Linked DNA regions of Homo sapiens: regions 2, 3 and 4 are each reported to be linked to region 1. The links are microRNA targets in miRTarBase. Many come from high-throughput screens and were not tested one by one. Region 1 holds a microRNA gene; each other region holds the end of a gene's coding sequence.

What was found. The annotated mature microRNA hsa-miR-4675 reads GGGGCUGUGAUUGACCAGCAGG and lies in region 1 at 1,739-1,760, opposite strand. An mRNA with a match to its seed (bases 2 to 7 or 8) in the 3' UTR can be bound and repressed. Matches are read on the target gene's strand: a 7mer-m8 pairs with bases 2 to 8, a 7mer-A1 pairs with bases 2 to 7 and ends in A, and an 8mer does both.
Region 2: the mRNA of TIMM8B is a reported target of hsa-miR-4675. The part of its 3' UTR that is shown has no 7-base or 8-base seed match.
Region 3: miRTarBase lists BARX2 as a target of hsa-miR-4675. Seed matches in the 3' UTR shown: 7mer-A1 at 400-406.
Region 4: miRTarBase lists BARHL1 as a target of hsa-miR-4675. Seed matches in the 3' UTR shown: 7mer-A1 at 2,484-2,490 and 7mer-m8 at 2,216-2,222.

What each region holds. Positions count from the first base shown.
Region 1 is chr10:20,550,650-20,553,774 of GRCh38, reverse strand. It overlaps MIR4675 (microRNA 4675), which reads right to left and starts at 1,805; the gene lies at 1,729-1,805.
Region 2 is chr11:112,082,328-112,085,452 of GRCh38, forward strand. It overlaps TIMM8B (translocase of inner mitochondrial membrane 8 homolog B), which reads right to left. Exons shown (of 2, transcript NM_012459.4): 2 at 2,473-3,125. The coding sequence ends at 2,968. It overlaps NKAPD1 (NKAP domain containing 1), which reads left to right. Exons shown (of 6, transcript NM_018195.4): 6 at 138-2,823. The coding sequence ends at 645. Among named protein-coding and RNA genes, the nearest start is that of TIMM8B, 2.9 kb to the right of the region's middle.
Region 3 is chr11:129,451,089-129,454,213 of GRCh38, forward strand. BARX2 (BARX homeobox 2) reads left to right here. Exons shown (of 4, transcript NM_003658.5): 4 at 48-1,191. The coding sequence ends at 314. Among named protein-coding and RNA genes, the nearest start is that of BARX2, 77 kb to the left of the region's middle. RefSeq lists an enhancer at 2,229-2,730.
Region 4 is chr9:132,589,138-132,592,137 of GRCh38, reverse strand. It overlaps BARHL1 (BarH like homeobox 1), which reads right to left. Exons shown (of 3, transcript NM_020064.4): 3 at 1,886-2,910. The coding sequence ends at 2,616. Among named protein-coding and RNA genes, the nearest start is that of BARHL1, 8.0 kb to the right of the region's middle.

The DNA.
Region 1 (3,125 bases):
ACATTCAATAACCAAAAAAAAAAAAAAAACCCTTCTGTTATTATTGCCTGATACCAAGGCAACATTGATTGAGGTAAAAGATGTACCAGCTGCAATCAGAACCATGTTGACAGGTATTTATAAACACACTGACACTGAAGGCATCTCCTGATAGCTTTTCAAATTAAGATATTTTGTTATTGCTGATGCATCAGATAGAATTTTTTTTTTGCCTCTCCAGCAGCCATTTCCATTCTCCCTCCCTTGGTAGCTTACAACCAGTTTTGTCCAAACCTTTGCCACCTTGTGCTTCATGGGAGCTGATGTCTTCACAGCCCTAGATAATGAATCTTAATTAACATTAGTCAGTCATGGGAAGTCTATTATTCTATCCAGTGGTTGGCCTACGGAAAGGCAGACAACAGAATTCTGGCCAATGAGACAGAAGGAATTATCTTCTTCTCATTCTTGCAAGGAATCTGAGAAAAGGGCCTACTTTCTTCCATTCTTTGGACACGTGTGAAGATGTGATGCTTGGATCTGTGGTAGCCATATTGTGGCAGCCATATTTTAAGCAGGAGGTGGTAGCCATACTGTGACCAGGAAGTGACAAGTCTGAGTGCAAAAGCCAATGCAATGACAAAAGAGAAGGGTGGAAAGAACTGAGTCCCTGGTGGTGTATTTGAGCTACTGAATCAACCAACGCTGTGAGGGCCTTACTGGTAGACTCTAAAAAAAAAAAAAAAAAAAGAAGATAATAAGTAAAGTTCCTGTATTGGTTCAGCCACTTGAATTTTGTCCTCCATAACCTTCAGCTGAATTCATCCTAAGTGAAGCTATTGATTTCAAGATTTAAGGAGAGCTTTTCCAGCATTACAGGCTACTTTAATGTTATACTTTACTGTGACTTCTCAAGCTACTGTTAAAAGATGTTGTAAATTCTGTTACTGATTTTTAAAGATGAAAATGCCCAGGCTAATAAGAAATGATATCAAGTGCAAATTTCTTTATTCAGTATAGATTTATTTTTTAAAAATAAGCACTCTTGAGAATTTGACCTGGTTAACGTTACCTCTCCAAACCACAGACAAGCTTTTTTTTTTTTTTTTTTTTTTTTTTTTTTTAATAGCTTTCAGTTCCAGACCCGACCTACTATCATGATTGATGACAGAGGATTTTTCTAGCATACTTGCTTTGTGGGTCACATGAGCTGAAGAAATTTCCACATCGGCTTTCATTTTGAAATATGTTGCAGGAAGAATGTGGCAAGTGTTTTCAGCTATTCTTACTTGTATATATTTAACACCCATTTTAGAAAAGATATATTTAGTAATTCCAACTTATTTATGACTGAAAGAATAATGATAGTGAGAATAATTATTCTGACTTTAGTAAATATTTGTTGGATACTTGTAATGTACCAGGGATTCCAGGGAGGAAGTGTAACATAATGCCAAAAAATAAGGGCTCCAGTCTCAAACAGATGTGGATTGTGGCCTTGAAAGGTATTGTGCATTTCCCAGAAAGGAACACTGAAATGGGAGAATGTGTTCCCCACTTGATTCCAAGGGTGAGTAGCCGGGATTTCCTTTCCTTTGCAGGAATTTCTCCTGGGAGAAGGTAAAGCTCCTTGCCCACACCCTATTTCTCTCCAGGTAAGTGGTTTTCCTGACATGGGAAGAACTATGCCATGGTTGAGTAAGTCGCTTCTACTCTCCTTTTGCTTGGAGAGGGCTCTAAGACTCAGTGCATGAGAAGTCCTGCTGGTCAATCACAGCCCCGGAGAGTCTGACCAGGGCTATGGTTGACCAGCAGGATTTCTCATGGAGTGAGTCTGTCCAATTCAGCCTAGATTTTATCAGTTATAAAGCTGACTTTTTAATCTTCATAAATCTAACTCCTGCATGCCTTTCAGTTGAATCTGAACTCCTGTGAGGGTGGAGCTATTGTCCCTAGAAGCCCTATGAAACACTAGATTAGATGCCATGCTGCTTTTTTTGCACATAATATCAGGTGGCAGGGTTGCCATGGGAAGGGGGCAGGTATCTTTCTCATTTTGATTTTTTTCCCTAAAAATGTGTACAAAATCCCTTGTCTCTGTCTCTTGGAACCAATAGTTCTCTTACAAATTGACTCCTGGAAACCTTACCTTCCTATTCATTAGATAGGATCTGAAATCTGCCACAATGGCAACAAAAGCAATTGCTGCTGTTTTCTGCAACCTCACTAAATGCTAGGTAGGGGTGTCTCACAATTGTATGTGAGATGAAGTGACATGTCAAAGCCAAGCAGAATTCTGCAAAGTTCTCACTGCATGTGCAGCTAGTTCTGCTAGTGTTCTGAAAGAAGCACAGGCATAGGAACATTGTTCCACAGAGCCTAGGCAGGAGTGAAAATGTCAAGCACTGCCCTCGGTAGCTGTGACTGCAAGGATGTTAACTAATGGGCAAAGAGGGGAAAAATATAAAAGTGGAATGTTGGTGAACACATATAAAACACCTCACTTACATCCAGCAATACTTGGAGGAGAAATTTTAGGAGGTGATTTTGGGTTATGCAATTTAAGAGCTAAGATCAGCATGATATTAATGTGACCCCAATATGACTCATGGGCTGGAAAGAATAAGGGAGGGTGGACTGCAGTAAAAATTGTCATGTTGATATGCTGGTGTCATAATGCTGGGTATGAATTCAATTTTGGAACATTATCATGAGTTTTTGTGCTTAGGTTTGAACATAACTTTTATTTATTTCCTATTCTTAGAAAGTACCTTAAATTGTATCACTAGAGCATCAGGGATCTTTCCTCTTGCCTACCGGCAAGTCTTGTAAAAGAATCATTCGGATCATAGGCCTTGAGAATGGTTCTGATCCATTTCCTGAAGCCCAGCCTGCCATACTTTTTGGAGGGGATGTGGGGTAGGATTCCCAGCTAACCCCAGCACAAGTGCCTTCATATCCACCATCACACCCCCATCATACTCGAATCACACCTGCATCATGCCCACATTGTACTCTCATCACACCTGTCATCATACCTTCATCATACTCCCATTACACCTGCCATTGTACCGCCATAATACTCCCATTACATTTACCACATACTCACATCATAATCCCACCACACCTGCCATCATATACCCACA
Region 2 (3,125 bases), not on the chromosome of region 1:
AAGTGTTAAAGTATACATTAAAGTGCTTATTTAAAATTCAGATGTTAACCTCAATTTTTTAATCTAGAATGCAAAATATTAAAATAATACGCTTTTTTTTTACATAAAAGCTTCTATTTTTTAACTTTTCTTATTAGTAGTGATCAGCAAGATATTACCAACGGGAAGAAAACATCTCCCCAGGTAAAGTCATCTACCCATGAATCCCGCAAACACAAGAAGTCAAAGAAATCCCACAAAAAAAAGCAGAAAAAAAGGTCACACAAAAAACAGAAGAAAAGCAAAAAGGAAGCCACAGATATAACAGCAGATTCCTCGAGTGAGTTCTCAGAAGAAACTGGGGCTTCTGGTACAAGGAAAGGGAAACAACCACATAAACGCAAGAAAAAATCCAGGAAAAAGTCTCTCAAAAAACCTGCTTTATTCTTAGAGGCAGAAAGTAACACTTCACATTCAGATGATTCAGCATCCAGCAGTTCTGAGGAAAGTGAGGAAAGAGACACTAAGAAAACCAAAAGGAAAAAGAGAGAGAAAAAAGCCCATACCTCTGTAGCCAACAATGAAATACAGGAGAGGACAAACAAACGCACAAATTGGAAAGTAGCTACAGATGAAAGGTCTGCTGAGAGCTCAGAGGATGACTAAATGGGAAACACTTTTGTTTTCCACATGACTGTGGATATTTACAGTTCTTACTCCTTGTGGTTTTGCCAGTGACTCTTGTTCAGCACGGGGCCTGAGGTCAGAGCTGTCTTGTGCCATCTGTATGTTCTGACAGACGTCTTGTCTTCTATTTTGGCGTTAAGCTTGATCCCCTTTTCTTGTTAAAAGGGAATCTGGTATTTTGTTATGAAGGTTTCTTGAAGAGATTATTTTTTTTTGCAATTAATTACGTTTAGTGTAGAGTGCATATACAGCAAATTAAAGGACCCAGAAAGCTGGATCCAATAGTGACCTGGGTACACCAATCGGAATATTGAATTTGGGGAAGTCAAGGGCTGGGATCAAGAGGTGGATTGGAACTAATGCCATGTAGGATGGTATGACAAGGCAACACTGTATTGCTCTCTGTTTATATAGCAGGTGTCACAACTAACTTGTCTTTAGCCTTGGTGCTTTGATCCTTCTATATTTTGACCCCACAGGTGTGGTCCGGTTTACTTAATCAGGACATGGGCCTAAGAACAAACCTTTTCCCTTCATGATAACATCCATAGACAACTTATTAGAAGGGACTAGAGTTTTTGCAAATTTCCCTGCTGGATGGGGCCTATAGCTATACTTAGTATATGCCTAAACATGGTAATTGGATAGTAAATGGTTTTCTAGTTCCATTGCTGTATATTTGCCTAAATGGACTTGTGTTCAAATTATTTCTTCAATTGTCATAGATAATCCTGTACCAAATGGGGAAGAATTAGGAAATAATCATGTTGTCTAATGGTACTCTGGATTCAGGGCAGCAACTGCCATTTAAATGTTGTCTTGTTCATTTCTAAATCTGTTCATGAAGTTTAGGTTTTCCCTGAAACTAAGTTGAATTATTTCCAAAATGAAACAGGCTTCTCAGGGACATATCCACTTCTTCCCAGTCTGCCTTTGGATTAAAGCACCAAGCAGAGACCACATTAATTCCCTTTGCTATACTGTGATCCTTAGTATGTTAATTCTTAAGAAACCAACATATCACTGAAAGAAGGCTGGCAGAACGCAAGTGCATTTTTTCACTGTGGGAAGAAAGATCAAGTGACGTATTATTTTTTCCTGGTTGTCACTTAATGGGCTGAGTAAAAAGCTTGAAAACTCAGACTTTCGGTCTTGGTTCTGCCACTCATTGGTTATGAGGAGGCCCAGAGCAGGTAAGTTCACCTTCCTGGCCTTACTTTCCTGATGTGTAATACGGAATTACTTCACAGTAGCATGACAGTATAAGACACCAGCAGTAGATACAACTATGATGACATTCCATGAGTTGGTATTTTTAGTTCTAACTGCTAAATTTGTTCTCTTTACGGGACAGATTTCTAATAAAGTGCTTGGTCTTAAAATACATGGTTGGACAGAGGTGCCCTATCCCTTAACTATGAGCAGGTGCTACCTTTTGGGATATTTATTTTAAATTTTAATACTTTGGTACTCAATTGTCAGTGTTCCATGGTGTGTATTTTTATTTTTGGGATTAGTGGGGGTCTAAAGGGAGAAGAATAGTCTCTAATTACTACCTCTTAACCTAAAGCAATTATTTTGTTCCTGGAGCAAGTTAAATCTTTGTTGGAAGGAGCTTTGGCCATATATTTTTTAGCATGCATTGTTTCTGTGCCCTGAAAGTACCTGAAAGGTTTTAAGCACAGACTCAGGAAAATGTGCCAGTAGAACAGGCCATCTCCAGGAAATTGGCTCTATTTGGGTCCTGACCTTCCCTTCCTCCCAAGTTAGCAGGCTTGTTCTTTCGCAAGGAATACACATCTTGCCTTTTTTTTTTTTTTTTTGCCATGTTTTCCTTTTCTTGGTCATGTATAAGCAATAAAGCTGTTTTTTGTTCTTCATCTTTCTTAACCCCAAATTTTCTTCTATGCCTTAGGCTTCGATGGTTCTTCCAACCCCCTTAATATGGCTTAGGGTGGTTTTTCAAAACCTACAATCCCCCATTTGCACTACTGGCCATGGAACATTTATTTCTAGTGTTCCTGCCAATCAGAGATCTCTATATTAAATTCTAAAATGGGATTAAAAGAAGAGTTGGAGAATTCACACTTATTGAGTAACTGATGTCATACAACCTGGAATTTCTGAATTCCAAATAAATAAATTTCACTCTTTGAACATTTCATCTTTTACTTTTTAGCACCAACAGACTTGATAACAGCCTGATGCTGATCTGACAATGGGTTGATAGCCTTCCCCCACTGACCCTTAAATCTGCTTAGTAACAAGTCCTTTGCTTCTGTCATTCTCCTGGGGGATGGCCTACTGCCCTCCTTTCTGTACAATCTGGGCAAACCGACTGGTGATGGCAAGAGTGGTGTCAATGAAGCGGTCTACACAGCTGGAGAGACAATTTTCAGTGCGAGAGTCTAGGCGATTCCCTGGCTTCTCCACACATTTATCCCAACATAACTCCATGA
Region 3 (3,125 bases), not on the chromosome of region 1:
GGAAGGAATTATTTCTTAGATTCAATAACAATTTTTTACTCACGTAGGTTCTTAAAGGTGGACAGGAAGCACCCACAAAACCCAAAGGTCGCCCCAAGAAGAACTCCATCCCCACATCAGAAGAGATTGAAGCTGAAGAGAAGATGAACAGCCAGGCCCAGGGTCAGGAGCAGCTGGAGCCCTCTCAGGGGCAGGAGGAGCTCTGTGAAGCACAGGAACCGAAAGCACGTGATGTCCCCTTAGAGATGGCAGAGCCACCAGACCCGCCCCAGGAGTTGCCAATACCCTCTTCGGAACCCCCACCATTAAGCTAAAGTAAAACCCTTTTGAGGGAAGAGGGAGACTGGGGAGAAGGGAAAAGAGAGAAGGCAGGGAGAGTAGGGAGAGAAAACCTTCCAGCAGCCCAGTAAACTGCGGGCGAAGAGATCTACCCGTCTCCCTCCCTCCCACAGTTACCATTGGCCTTGTCATCGCAAGCATTTGACAAAGACTTGCTTGTCTTGGGCCTGTCACCTCCTGAAAGGCTGCTTTAGCTGTGGATGCCCTTGATTAAGGGAGAGAGCGCCTAGGAGCTGCCTGCCCCAGCTGGGGTGACGGCTGTAGGGCTGGGTCTATGTTGCAAGCCCTATATCCTAGCATGCAGTGGAAAGTGCTTAGCTCTCTCCCTCCTGACCTCTGGGCAGCCAGTCATCAAAGCAGAGAGACGTGGCGGCATGTGGGCAGCATGCCCAGGTTCCTTGCTGACTCAGCACTTATTTCTGTAGTTTTAAAAAAGAATTTAATGTTTTTGGTTGTATTTTTTTGGGGGGGTGAGGGTGGGCAAAAACATGGGGGTAGTTCTGAGTTGTTAGAAATGTTTCTGAATCAAGTTTGTTTGAAGACACGTGTGCCTTTGTACCCATTATAAGATGGTCATAAGACCCAAGAACTGATAAGCTTTGGTTTTTTTTTTGTTTTGTTTTGTTTTTTGCTTCATTTACCCATTCATGCCTAGGGTTCCATTATTGGAACCCTAAGCTTGTGGGAGTTATTTCTATCCTACTGCTCAAGGTCATCACCAAGATCTGATTTTTCATAAAAAACATTTGTGACCTTCGGCATAAATGGGTTAAGGTGCCATCCCTGAAACTGCAATGCAGATATGTTCAGATAACTTTTATTTTTTAATTAAAAATAAATCTTTCAAAAGGATTGAGTGTTTTGTGTCTTCTGAGGAGTGTATCTAACCCTTCCTGAATGTGTCCTATGGGAAGAGAGATCCAGAGAGTGAACCAAACTAGGGGGGCCACCTTTTCCCCATCTATAAAACAAAGGATTGGGCCAGGCCATTGGTGTCCAAGTGCTGAGAGCTGTGGGAGTGGAACCGAGCCTCCGGGATGAGGACAGGGCAGAGTAGCTAGGCTCTCCCTTCCACCTCTCCCACCGCCTTCTGCCAGAGCAGCTCCCTTCTCAGCCGCTTCACATTTGGGGCGTCCAATGGTCTTACTTTTTTAAAGAGGTAAGAAATGTATATGCTTCAAAAGTCAAAACTATAAAAAAAGAAGTCTTGGGCTGGGAGCAGTGGCTCACGCCTGTAATCCCAGCACTTTGGGAGGCCCAGGCAGGCGGATCACCTGAGGTTGGGAGTTCGAGACCAGCCTGACCAACATGGAGAAACCCTGTCTCTACTAAAAATACAAAATTAGCTGGGTGTGGTGGTACATGCCTGTAATCCCAGCTACTTGGGAGGCTGAGGCAGGAGAATCGCTTGAACCTGGGAGGCGGAGGTTGCAGTGAGCCAAGATCATGCCATCGCACTCCAGCCTGGGCAATAAGAGCGGAACTCTGTCTCAAAACAAACAAACAAACAAACAAACAAAAAACAAAAAAAAACTTGCTTCCACCCTGCCCTCTCCTCCCCTGAATCCCCGGTAGGTAATTATTTTTATTGGTTTCTTGTTCATCTTTCCAGGGTTTCTTGACTAAGTATTCATTTGGATGATGGGCTCTGCAACTTTTAACAAAAGAAGACCTGAGAACTACTTGACTAGATGTGCTGGGTGATTTTAAATTTAAAAATTGTGTTCCACGTTAATTTAAGACCAAAAAGAAGGAGGCTCTAGATTTCCTAGCAGGAGGACTCTGCCTCTGTTTTTTTTTTGTCTGATTCTCATGCATTCTGGCCCAGAGCCTGATCTCAGAGGGGTCACCTTTATGATCACTGCCCCAGCGTGCTCACCTGTGATGGCTTACAGGGCCGAGTGCCCATTTAGTGGACTCTCAGTTATTAATTACACACAAACTCTGCCCAGTTGCAGGCTTGGAGAATACCAACTTTCAACAGTGGCCTCAACAAGGAAGCCAAATCTGTTACTACTTCTGTAAAACAATCACATAATTCATTTCAAAGTTAAACAGGAAAGATCCGCGTGTTTTCCATCACCTGGCAGGCCGCCTGCTTTTCTCCATTAACAATCAGAAAGTGACTGCAATTTTGACTTTGCCAAGGCAGTGCCTCATCCCCTTTGTTATTGAGATCAACAGAGAAAGCAGTCTTTTTCTTAACTCTTGTGAATAGACAAAGGAGGGGAGGATTTGGCTTCTGAGAACCAGTTTGAGCAGACCACACCTAGCTGCCTGTGCGAGGTTGCTTGCACCAAGCAGGCAGAACGCTGTCTCCTCCACCTGTAGCCCACCCCATGGTACAGTTTTATGATCTGCCTACCAGGTGGTGTCACAATGAGCCAAAGAATGTGCACAATGGCCAAAGTAAGCCGGTGGGTCAGTGTTAGTTCTGTGTCAATCCTAAGGAAGTGTTCTGTCCCATTCGCGCCACCCCAGAGAGGCCTCCTGTCTGGATGCTGGCTTCCCAGGATGGTGTTCCATCTCTTGCCCTGGGCTCCCATGATGTCCTTTTCTTTTTTTTTAAGTTCAGGGGTACATCTGCAGGTTTGTTACATCGGTAAGTTTGTGTCATGGGGGTTCGTTGTACAGATGATTTCATTGCCCAGGTATTTCAGCCTAGTACCCATTAGTTATTTTTCCTGATGCTCTCCCTCCTCCCACCGTCCTCCCTCTGGTAGGCGCCAGTGTATTTTTTTTCCCCCTCTATGTGTCCATGTGTTTTCATGATGTCCTCTTCTGAG
Region 4 (3,000 bases), not on the chromosome of region 1:
TAAACTTCTTTTCAACTTTGTTGCCCCCTCCCTGTTGAGTCGGCGTTTATGAGGGGGGATGGGTCAGTGGCAGAGCGGGGGAAGATGGCTTCTCAGCCCTCTCCTATTGTCAGGCCTGTTGGGGTCCCACATTCATTCTTTTTTTCTTACACGAGAGCTCGCCCAACCTCAGGGTTGGGAACAGAAACCAATTTAGCCTTCTAAGTGGATGGAAGGCAGGAGCCCACCTCACTGCAAAGGTTGTGAAGTTATTATTACAGATGGGATGTGCAGGACAATTTAAAATATTCTAATTATAAACTTGTAGGGAAGCCTTGTTCTTCATTAATGTAGGATATGAAATCGCCTCTGAGGTACAAGGACAATTACATAGTTGAGAATGTGTCTGTGGTTTGCGCTGCCACTGTGTAAATGTGAGGGTGGTTGCTACGGTCTATCTCCTTCACTTTCACAAAATGAAAAGCACACCAGTGCAAGTTGTCCTTTGATAGATTTTTAATATGATTTTAAAGAGTTTTGTTTGGTCTCATTCTTATTCAATGAGATTAATTTAAAGCACTTATCCCCTGGGTTTAAGTCAATCCATGTAGGATTTGGGCAGGGTTTGTTGCATGGGGGGTTTTGTTTGCAGGAGGCTATGAGAGACTCCTTTCCCACTTCATTAACCCTGAGTTGGGGACAGTCTCTCCTCACCCCCCACCAGAGCCAGAGCTGGGGATTTACCAACCCCCATTCACATGCAAAAGAACTCGAAAGCCGAGGGGCTCCTTGACTTAATTAGCTGCTGTGCATTTTGCAAAATTAGAATAATACCCTCGCCATCCCAGGAAAGAAAGCTGCTGTGCGAGGGTGTTTCGGGGCAGGGAGGAAACAGTAGCGGACCTGGCTGTGGGTATGGTTTTCGAGAGGGGTTATAGTCTGAACACAGCCCCCGTCTTCAGAGAAACCCTGCCCCCAAACTAGAGGGGCCACGGCTTGCCGGCCCCCAAAACTTCCCAGCGCTGAGGGTTAGCGAGCTGCAGGTGGTGTGTGGGAAGGGAGCACCTGCGCCCACCTCCCCAGAGAGGGAGCAGTCTCAGGTGACCGTGGCCCTTTGGACGTGAACTGGAAGCCTCGAGTCTGACTCGGGACTTAAACCCCTCTCCCCTGAGATGCTAGAGCTGCGGTCTGGGGCAGCCAGAAGAGATGGGGCAGACGCTGGGATTTGGCTCCCCTCTGGGTCTCATTTCCAACCTCCTCCCGGGGTAAAGGGGAGGTGAGAAGATGTGGGAGTGGGGGTTTACCCGATGTGGCGTCTGGTTCGCAGCGAAGGCGCGCGGAGTCCTGCCTGGTGCGGGAGGCCGGGAGGCCCGGGCCGCCTTGGCGCCCGCGAGCGTCGGGAGCCCGAGCGCGGCCGGACGCTGGGCGGAGGGTGGGAGTGATGGGGGGAGCAGCCTCGGAGCCCATCTGTCGGCCCGCGCCCGGCGGGCCGGTCACCAGCTGCCGGGGCCCTTGTCGCGGCCAGATGAGTCGGCTCGGCGAGGGCCCCGCAGCCCGGCCCGCAGCCGACCGAGGCCCCGCGCTGACCCCCGCCTGTTCCGGCACGGACCCCCGCCCCGGCCCTCGGGACCGTCTGGGAGCCGCTAGGAACCAGATGGAGACAGAGGAGGAGGAGGGGAACAACGAGCTGGCCTCGCTGTAGAGATGGGAAGACTGAGGCCAGGGAGGGGAGACCCGGGCCCCAGCGAGTCCCGTCGGGGCCCCCGCGCATGTCCACAGCACCGGGGAAGAGAAGGGGGACAAAAATGTTTCGTTATTGAGGATGGAAGGAAACCGAGTCCCCAGGAGAGGGATGGGAGAGGGGTTGAGTGCGGACCCAGCGACGCGAGCGCGGACAGGCGCCTGGTCATTTGTAAGAAGTTTATTTCGACATTTAAAAAAGAGAGAACCCGAGAGGCCTGGCTGCCCCCGGACCGGGGCTGAGGCTGGGGGCTGGGGTCGGGGTGGGTGGGCAAGCCCCCTTGGCCCCTTCCTGCCCCGCCTGGGAGTGGGGAGGGCACAGGCCACAGACTCACTAATCCACGGACACGGTCACGGGCTCATGGGTCACGAATAAATAACTTCATATACACTTTGCACACGGTATGTACAGCTCAGCCGCTGGCCCAGGTGCTCGAGGGGTAGGGAGACGGGGCTCCGCACTCCCCTTCTCTCCCTGGCGGGGGCGCGGGGAGAGGGGCTGTTCTCCACCTGGAGCGTAGAAGGGGCGTGGGAGAGAGCGAAGCCTGGGAATCAGCCGCACCCGCTCCTGGGGAGAAAGGGGTTGCCTAGGGGAGCCGGCAGAGGCTGGGGGTGGGGAGTGGCAGAGACGCGTATGTACACCCGGCGGGTGGGGATGGCTCCCGGACAGAGCGGCCGCGAGAGAGGACGCCGAGGGGGGCTGGGGAGACGCAGTCCGGGGTCCGGGCCTCAGTGGACTTGGCATTTGGCCCTTCGGGGGGCACTGGGCTGGGGCGCCAGGGAGGGCCGGGCAGGGCCCCCTCCCGGGAAAGGGCGTCGAACCTGCGCCCTCAGAAAGGCGGGCGGAAGGGGCCACGCCGAGCCCGCGGGAGGAGGCCCCGGAGCCGACGGGCGCCTCACCGAGGCTGCGCGGCGCGTGGGAGGACGCCGGCCAGGGGGGGCAGCGGCGGGGGCGGCTCGCTGGCGCCCTGGAGTCCGTGGATGAGGATGCGGGGCACCAGAGGTCTCTGGAGAGCAGGCGGCGGCGCGCTGGGGCCGCGGTACAGGTAGAGCGCCGCGCCGGGGTCCAGGTTGGAAACCAGACTCTGCGGGTAGAAATAAGGCGACGGGAACATCCGCTGGAGCGCTGAGTAATTGCCTGCCTCCGCCAGCAGCTCCAACCCGACGGCCGTCTGTCGCTTCCATTTAGTCCTGGGGGCCGAAATAAACGCGTATGGCGGGATCAGGGCTAGGGCATCCAGCGACCCCAGCCCCTCCCCACTGCTTGGCCCAGAGAGCCTG